2 separate regions of the Homo sapiens genome follow, and region 2 is linked to region 1. The links come from fine-mapping of genetic effects on gene expression. A gene starts in region 1. The other region holds a variant in brackets. All regions are shown on one strand. Distances are from middle to middle. Region 1 holds the start of ICAM4 (intercellular adhesion molecule 4 (Landsteiner-Wiener blood group)). Region 2 overlaps KEAP1 (kelch like ECH associated protein 1).

What was found. PIP is the estimated chance that this variant, and not a neighbour inherited with it, causes the effect. A credible set is the group of variants that fine-mapping cannot tell apart.
Region 2: its variant is the best candidate, but not a certain one, in a credible set for the expression of ICAM4 in monocytes (Fairfax 2014, PIP 0.51).

The regions. Positions count from the first base shown.
Region 1 is chr19:10,284,329-10,288,710 of GRCh38, forward strand. ICAM4 (intercellular adhesion molecule 4 (Landsteiner-Wiener blood group)) reads left to right here and starts at 2,627. Exons shown (of 3, transcript NM_001544.5): 1 at 2,627-3,078; 2 at 3,208-3,510; 3 at 3,658-4,192. The coding sequence starts at 2,685. The coding sequence ends at 3,776. ICAM1 (intercellular adhesion molecule 1) reads left to right here. Exons shown (of 7, transcript NM_000201.3): 5 at 75-329; 6 at 455-700; 7 at 787-2,287. The coding sequence ends at 959. ICAM4-AS1 (ICAM4 antisense RNA 1) reads right to left here. Exons shown (of 1, transcript NR_186335.1): 1 at 1,473-4,382. RefSeq lists enhancers at 2,195-2,244, 2,299-3,268, 2,615-2,754.
Region 2 is chr19:10,489,738-10,494,119 of GRCh38, forward strand. KEAP1 (kelch like ECH associated protein 1) reads right to left here. Exons shown (of 6, transcript NM_203500.2): 3 at 1,840-2,525; 4 at 1-116. Among named protein-coding and RNA genes, the nearest start is that of KEAP1, 11 kb to the right of the region's middle. RefSeq lists an enhancer at 2,182-2,682. The variant A/C (reference allele first, on the strand shown) is at 1,767.

The sequences.
Region 1 (4,382 bases):
GGGCAGGGGCGGAGTGGGGCTTCTTGGGGGTGTGACCTGAACCCGGGGCGGGGCTCACTGTGTGCCTATTCCAGGCTTTCCGGCGCCCAACGTGATTCTGACGAAGCCAGAGGTCTCAGAAGGGACCGAGGTGACAGTGAAGTGTGAGGCCCACCCTAGAGCCAAGGTGACGCTGAATGGGGTTCCAGCCCAGCCACTGGGCCCGAGGGCCCAGCTCCTGCTGAAGGCCACCCCAGAGGACAACGGGCGCAGCTTCTCCTGCTCTGCAACCCTGGAGGTGGCCGGCCAGCTTATACACAAGAACCAGACCCGGGAGCTTCGTGTCCTGTGTGAGTGGGGCTGCTGGTCAATGGCCCCTATCCCCCAAGGCCCAATCTCCCTGAAGGTCCCATAAGGTCTTGCCTCCAAGTCCTGCCCCCACCCACCTCCATGTCATCTCATCGTGTTTTTCCAGATGGCCCCCGACTGGACGAGAGGGATTGTCCGGGAAACTGGACGTGGCCAGAAAATTCCCAGCAGACTCCAATGTGCCAGGCTTGGGGGAACCCATTGCCCGAGCTCAAGTGTCTAAAGGATGGCACTTTCCCACTGCCCATCGGGGAATCAGTGACTGTCACTCGAGATCTTGAGGGCACCTACCTCTGTCGGGCCAGGAGCACTCAAGGGGAGGTCACCCGCAAGGTGACCGTGAATGTGCTCTGTGAGTGAGCCGGCGGGCAGAGCTGGGTGGGGGCAGGGGCCATGGACCTAATGCAATCCTCACCGCCTGTTGTATCCTCCCCACAGCCCCCCGGTATGAGATTGTCATCATCACTGTGGTAGCAGCCGCAGTCATAATGGGCACTGCAGGCCTCAGCACGTACCTCTATAACCGCCAGCGGAAGATCAAGAAATACAGACTACAACAGGCCCAAAAAGGGACCCCCATGAAACCGAACACACAAGCCACGCCTCCCTGAACCTATCCCGGGACAGGGCCTCTTCCTCGGCCTTCCCATATTGGTGGCAGTGGTGCCACACTGAACAGAGTGGAAGACATATGCCATGCAGCTACACCTACCGGCCCTGGGACGCCGGAGGACAGGGCATTGTCCTCAGTCAGATACAACAGCATTTGGGGCCATGGTACCTGCACACCTAAAACACTAGGCCACGCATCTGATCTGTAGTCACATGACTAAGCCAAGAGGAAGGAGCAAGACTCAAGACATGATTGATGGATGTTAAAGTCTAGCCTGATGAGAGGGGAAGTGGTGGGGGAGACATAGCCCCACCATGAGGACATACAACTGGGAAATACTGAAACTTGCTGCCTATTGGGTATGCTGAGGCCCCACAGACTTACAGAAGAAGTGGCCCTCCATAGACATGTGTAGCATCAAAACACAAAGGCCCACACTTCCTGACGGATGCCAGCTTGGGCACTGCTGTCTACTGACCCCAACCCTTGATGATATGTATTTATTCATTTGTTATTTTACCAGCTATTTATTGAGTGTCTTTTATGTAGGCTAAATGAACATAGGTCTCTGGCCTCACGGAGCTCCCAGTCCTAATCACATTCAAGGTCACCAGGTACAGTTGTACAGGTTGTACACTGCAGGAGAGTGCCTGGCAAAAAGATCAAATGGGGCTGGGACTTCTCATTGGCCAACCTGCCTTTCCCCAGAAGGAGTGATTTTTCTATCGGCACAAAAGCACTATATGGACTGGTAATGGTTACAGGTTCAGAGATTACCCAGTGAGGCCTTATTCCTCCCTTCCCCCCAAAACTGACACCTTTGTTAGCCACCTCCCCACCCACATACATTTCTGCCAGTGTTCACAATGACACTCAGCGGTCATGTCTGGACATGAGTGCCCAGGGAATATGCCCAAGCTATGCCTTGTCCTCTTGTCCTGTTTGCATTTCACTGGGAGCTTGCACTATGCAGCTCCAGTTTCCTGCAGTGATCAGGGTCCTGCAAGCAGTGGGGAAGGGGGCCAAGGTATTGGAGGACTCCCTCCCAGCTTTGGAAGCCTCATCCGCGTGTGTGTGTGTGTGTATGTGTAGACAAGCTCTCGCTCTGTCACCCAGGCTGGAGTGCAGTGGTGCAATCATGGTTCACTGCAGTCTTGACCTTTTGGGCTCAAGTGATCCTCCCACCTCAGCCTCCTGAGTAGCTGGGACCATAGGCTCACAACACCACACCTGGCAAATTTGATTTTTTTTTTTTTTCCAGAGACGGGGTCTCGCAACATTGCCCAGACTTCCTTTGTGTTAGTTAATAAAGCTTTCTCAACTGCCTCAGCCTTGTGTGAGTTGAGGGGAGGTGTCACATCCAGCTGGAGTCCTTTCTAAGCAGCCACAGCCTGATCCTCCCACTTCCTCCCCCAAGAAAACATTGTGGGTTGATGGCCATACCCTGAGGTTCTGGTCCAAATCGGACTTTCTATGACCTTCTGGGTCTCTAGTGAAAACTAAAGACTCCTCTCCAGAAAAAAACATTTGGTTTCTAATGAGGCCTGGAATCTTATTCTTGACCTGGGGAGCGGAATCCCTTTTTGCAGTACTCCCGGGCCCTCTGTTGGGGCCTCCCCTTCCTCTCCAGGGTGGAGTCGAGGAGGCGGGGCTGCGGGCCTCCTTATCTCTAGAGCCGGCCCTGGCTCTCTGGCGCGGGGCCCCTTAGTCCGGGCTTTTTGCCATGGGGTCTCTGTTCCCTCTGTCGCTGCTGTTTTTTTTGGCGGCCGCCTACCCGGGAGTTGGGAGCGCGCTGGGACGCCGGACTAAGCGGGCGCAAAGCCCCAAGGGTAGCCCTCTCGCGCCCTCCGGGACCTCAGTGCCCTTCTGGGTGCGCATGAGCCCGGAGTTCGTGGCTGTGCAGCCGGGGAAGTCAGTGCAGCTCAATTGCAGCAACAGCTGTCCCCAGCCGCAGAATTCCAGCCTCCGCACCCCGCTGCGGCAAGGCAAGACGCTCAGAGGGCCGGGTTGGGTGTCTTACCAGCTGCTCGACGTGAGGGCCTGGAGCTCCCTCGCGCACTGCCTCGTGACCTGCGCAGGAAAAACACGCTGGGCCACCTCCAGGATCACCGCCTACAGTGAGGGACAGGGGCTCGGTCCCGGCTGGGGTGAGGGGAGGGGGCTGGAAGAGGTGGGGGAAGGGTAGTTGACAGTCGCTCTATAGGGAGCGCCCGCGGACCTCACTCAGAGGCTCCCCCTTGCCTTAGAACCGCCCCACAGCGTGATTTTGGAGCCTCCGGTCTTAAAGGGCAGGAAATACACTTTGCGCTGCCACGTGACGCAGGTGTTCCCGGTGGGCTACTTGGTGGTGACCCTGAGGCATGGAAGCCGGGTCATCTATTCCGAAAGCCTGGAGCGCTTCACCGGCCTGGATCTGGCCAACGTGACCTTGACCTACGAGTTTGCTGCTGGACCCCGCGACTTCTGGCAGCCCGTGATCTGCCACGCGCGCCTCAATCTCGACGGCCTGGTGGTCCGCAACAGCTCGGCACCCATTACACTGATGCTCGGTGAGGCACCCCTGTAACCCTGGGGACTAGGAGGAAGGGGGCAGAGAGAGTTATGACCCCGAGAGGGCGCACAGACCAAGCGTGAGCTCCACGCGGGTCGACAGACCTCCCTGTGTTCCGTTCCTAATTCTCGCCTTCTGCTCCCAGCTTGGAGCCCCGCGCCCACAGCTTTGGCCTCCGGTTCCATCGCTGCCCTTGTAGGGATCCTCCTCACTGTGGGCGCTGCGTACCTATGCAAGTGCCTAGCTATGAAGTCCCAGGCGTAAAGGGGGATGTTCTATGCCGGCTGAGCGAGAAAAAGAGGAATATGAAACAATCTGGGGAAATGGCCATACATGGTGGCTGACGCCTGTAATCCCAGCACTTTGGGAGGCCGAGGCAGGAGAATCGCTTGAGCCCAGGAGTTCGAGACCAGCCTGGACAACATAGTGAGACCCCGTCTATGCAAAAAATACACAAATTAGCCTGGTGTGGTGGCCCGCACCTGTGGTCCCAGCTACCCGGGAGGCTGAGTTGGGAGGATCCTTTGAGCCCTGAAAGTCGAGGTTGCAGTGAGCCTTGATCGTGCCACTGCACTCCAGCCTGGGGGACAGAGCACGACCCTGTCTCCAAAAATAAAATAAAAATAAAAATAAATATTGGCGGGGGAACCCTCTGGAATCAATAAAGGCTTCCTTAACCAGCCTCTGTCCTGTGACCTAAGGGTCCGCATTACTGCCCTTCTTCGGAGGAACTGGTTTGTTTTTGTTGTTGTTGTTGTTTTTGCGATCACTTTCTCCAAGTTCCTTGTCTCCCTGAGGGCACCTGAGGTTTCCTCACTCAGGGCCCACCTGGGGTCCCGAAGCCCCAGACTCTGTGTATCCCCAGCGGGT
Region 2 (4,382 bases), 210 kb after region 1:
TCCCGTCAAAGCCCCCCACGGCATAAAGGAGACGATTGAGGACAGCCACGCCCACCCCGATCCTTCGTGTCAGCATTGGGGCCACCAAGTGCCACTCATCCCGCTCTGGCTCATACCTGCAAGGGCGTAAGAAAAATGGGGACAATGGCCATTATAGCTGACCTTCGTGGAATACTTAAGGGCCAGATACTCTTTTTTTTCCTTTTTTTTTTCCCCCTTAAAGAGACAGGTTCATCCGGCGCGATGGCTCATGCCTGTAATCCCAGCACTTTGGGAGGCCGAGGAGGGCGGATCACCTGAGCTCAGGAGTTTGAGACCAGCCTGGCCAACATGGTAAAAACCTGTCTCTACTAAAAGTACAAAAATTAGCTGGGTGTGATGGCAGATGCCTGTAATCCCAGCTACTCGGGAGGCTGAGGCGAGATAATCACTTGAACCTGGGAGGCGGAGGTTGCAGCGAGCTGAGATCATGCCACTGCACTCCAACCTGGGCAACAGAGCGAGACTCCATCTCAAAAAAAAAAAAAGAAAAAAAGAGACAGGGTCTTGCTCCGTTGTCCAGGCTGGAGTGCAGTGGTGCAATCACTGAAGCTTCAAACTTTTTTTTTTTTTTTTTTTTTGAGATGGAGTGCAATGGTGAGAGCATGGCTCACTGCAACCTCCACCTCCTGGGTTCAAGCAGTTATTCAGCCTCAGCCTCACAAGTAGCTGGGATAACAGGCACCCACCACCACGCCCGGCTAATTTTTGTATTTTTAGTAGAAATTGGGTTTCGCCATGTTGGCCAGGCTGGTCTCAAACACCTGACCTCAAGTGATCTGCCTGCCTCAGCTTTCCAAAGGGCTGGGATTATAGGCATGAGCCACCACACCCAGCCTGCAGCTATCAACTCTTGGGCTCAAGGAACCCTCCTGGCTCAGCCTCCTGAGTAGCTGGGACTACAGGTGCACACCACCGTGCCCACCTCCACTCGAACTCTAGTGCTTGCAGTTGTTCTCCAAGGATTGAGGTATCAGCAACTCCATTTTCCAAATGACAAAACTGAGCCTCCTAGCCATCAATTGCTCAAGTTCAAAAACACATCTGATAAACCCCTAGTGGCTCAGCCAGATCCCCCACTTCACAGATAACAAGATAACATCTCAGAAAGGAGAAATCACACATTCAGCATCACTCTTTGATGCTCAAAGAGTCCTTTAGGTCCGGCACAGTGGCTCACACCTGTAATCGCAGCACTTTGGGAGGTTGAGGTGGGAGAATCCCTTGAGGACAGGAGTTCAAGACCAGCCTGGCCAACATGGTGAAACCCCATCTCTACAAAAAATACAAAAATTAACCAGGCGTGGTGGTGGGTACTTGTAGTCCCAGCTACCCCAGGGTCTGAGGCAGGAGAATCACTTGAACCTGGGAGGCGAGGTTGCAGTGACCCAAGATGCACTCCAGCCTGGGCAACAGAGCAAGAGAGACAGGGTCTTACTCTATTGCCCAGGCTAGTCTCCTGGACTCAAGCAATCCTCCCACCTCAGCCTCCCAAAGTCCCTGATTATAGGTATGGGCCACAGTGCCTAGCCCAACAATTTCAAACTGATGGAACATTTTCCAACTCCGCACAAAGGAACCATATGGGTTTGTGACAGTCCCCTAAGCATTTCCCAGCCCCAGGCACAGAATCAAAGGTCACTGACTAGAACTCTCCAAGGAGCTTAGCTTCATCCTGAGGCCTCCACTCCCTGAAGACAGGAAGAGGAAACAGCCTCAGGAAGAAT[A/C]CCCGGATCTCAGTGTCTTGGGACTTGCCAGGAGCAGGACCCTCCGAGCCCACCCCCAGGCCCTGCCACTCACCTCTCCACACTGTTGTGGTGGATGCAGCCGTGGGAGCCGCCGACGGCATAGATGTGGCCATCGATGACCCCCACCCCGATGCGGTTACGGGGCACGCTCATGGGGGCGCAGGGCGACCACTGATTGGTCATGGGGTTGTAACAGTCCAGGGCGCTGGAGTCGGTGTTGCCGTCGGGCGAGTTGTTCCTGCCGCCCACGGCGTACAACAGCCCGCCCACCACGCAGCCGGCCAGGCCGCTCCGCGGCACCTGCAGGTCCGCCAACCGGAGCCAGGTGCCGTCACTGGGGTTGTAAGCCTCCAGGTAGCTGAGCGACTGTCGGAAGTAGCCGCCCGCGGTGTAGATCAGGCGGCCCACCTTGGGCGCCCGGCAGGGCATCACCTGCGTGGGCTTGTGCAGGGTGAGCTCCTCGAAGATCTTGACCAGGTAGTCCTTGCAGCGGGAGTCGGACTGCAGGATCTCGCACTTCTGCAGCTGCATCTGCAGGAAGTTCGGCGTCAACGAGTGGCAGCGCACGGCCCGCAGCAGCGCCTGGACGTAGAACCGTCGCTGTTCGCAGTCGTACTTGACCCAGTTGATGCAGGCGTGGAAGACCTCGGACTCGCAGCGCACGTTCAGGTCGTCCCGGCTGATGAGGGTCACCAGTTGGCAGTGGGACAGGTTGAAGAACTCCTCTTGCTTGGCCACCTGCAGAGGGCGACAGTGGGACGGGCTGACTCTCCAGTCACCCCCACACCTCACCAAGCAGGACCGGGACAAGTAACTTATCACTGCCGCTGACAGTCTCAGCTTCCTTATCTGCTAAATGGGGATTCAAATAATAGGAACCGCGTACATTGTGATGACTAAATGAGTTAATCCTGCCGGGCGCGGTGGCTCACGCCTGTAATGCCAGCACTTTGGGAGGCCGAGGCTGGCGGATCACGAGGTCAGGAGTTGAGAGACAAGCCTGGCCAATATGGTGAAACCCCATCTCTACTAAAAATACAAAAATTACCCGGGTGTGGTGGCACACGCCTCTAGTCCCAGCTACTCGGGAGGCTGAAGCAGAAGAATCGCTTGAACCCGGGAGGCGGGAGGCGGAGGTTGCAGTGAGCCGATATTGCGCCACTGCACTCCAGCCTGGGCGACAGAGCAAGACTCTGTCTCAAAGAAAAAAAAAAAAGAGTTAATACTATGTGCCAAGTATGTCATCAGGACTCAGGAAAATGGGCAAAGACTCAGTAGATCGTGTACCCTGGGGTATCATTTGGCTTTGGTTTTTGAGACAGAGTCTCACTCTGTCACCCAGGCTGGAGTGCAGTGGCATGATCTAGGCTCACTGCAACCTCTGCCTCCCAGGTTCAAGCAATTCTCCTGCCTCAGCCTCTCAAGTAGCTGACATTACAGGCACCTACCACCATGCCCCGTTAATTTTTATTTTATTTTATTTTATTTTGATATGGATTCTTACTCTGTTGCCCAAGCTGGAGTGCAGTGGTGTGATCTTGCTTCACTGCAACCTCCGCCACCCAGGTTCAAGTGATTCTCCTGCCTCAGCCTCCCAAGTAGCTAGGATTACAGGAGTGTGCCTCCAGAGCAGCTAATTTTTTTTTTTTTTTTGGAGACAGTCTTGCTCTGTCGCCCAGGCTGGAGTGCAGTGGAGCGATCTCCGCTTGCTGCAACCTCCGCCTCCTGGGTTCACGCCATTCTCCTGCCTCAGCCTCCCGATTAGCTGGGACTACAGGCGCCCGCGACCACGCCCAGCTAAGTTTTTTTGTATTTTTTTAGTAGAGATGGGGTTTCACCGTGTTAGCCAGGATGGTCTCGATCTCCTGACCTTGTGATCCACCCGCCTTAGCCTCCCAAAGTGCTGGGATTACAGGCGTGAGCCACCGCGCCCGGCCATTTTTTTGTATTTATTTTTAGTAGAGACGGAGTTTCACTATGTATTTTTAGTAGAGATGGCATTTCTTCATGTTGGCCAGGCTGGTCTCAAACTCTTTTTTTTTTTTTTTTTTTTTTGAGATGGAGTCTCGCTCTTTTGCCCAGGCCGGACTGCAGTGGCGCTATCTCGGCTCACTGCAAGCTCCACCTCCCGGGTTCACGCCATTCTCCTGCCTCAGCCTCCCGAGTAGCTGGGACTACAGGGGCCCACCACCGTGCCTGGCTAATATTTTTTGTATTTTTAGTAGAGACGGGGTGACTGTGTTAGCCAGGATGATCTTGATCTCCTGACCTCGTGATCCGCCCGCCTCGGCCTCCCAAAGTGCTGGGATTACAAGCGTGAGCCACCTCGCCTGGCCAGTCTTGAACTCTTGACCTTAGGTGATCTGCCCATCTCAGCCTCCCTAAGTGCTAGGATTACAGGCGTGAGCCACCGGACCTGGCCTGTTTTTGCTTTTGAGACACAGTTTTGCTCTGTCACCTAGGCTGTAGTGCAGTGGCACAATCATAGCTCACTGTAGCCTTGAACTCCTGGGCTCAAACGATCTTCCCACCTCAGCCTCCTGAGTCGCTGGGACTACAGGTGTGTGCCACCACGCACAGCTAATTTTCATATTT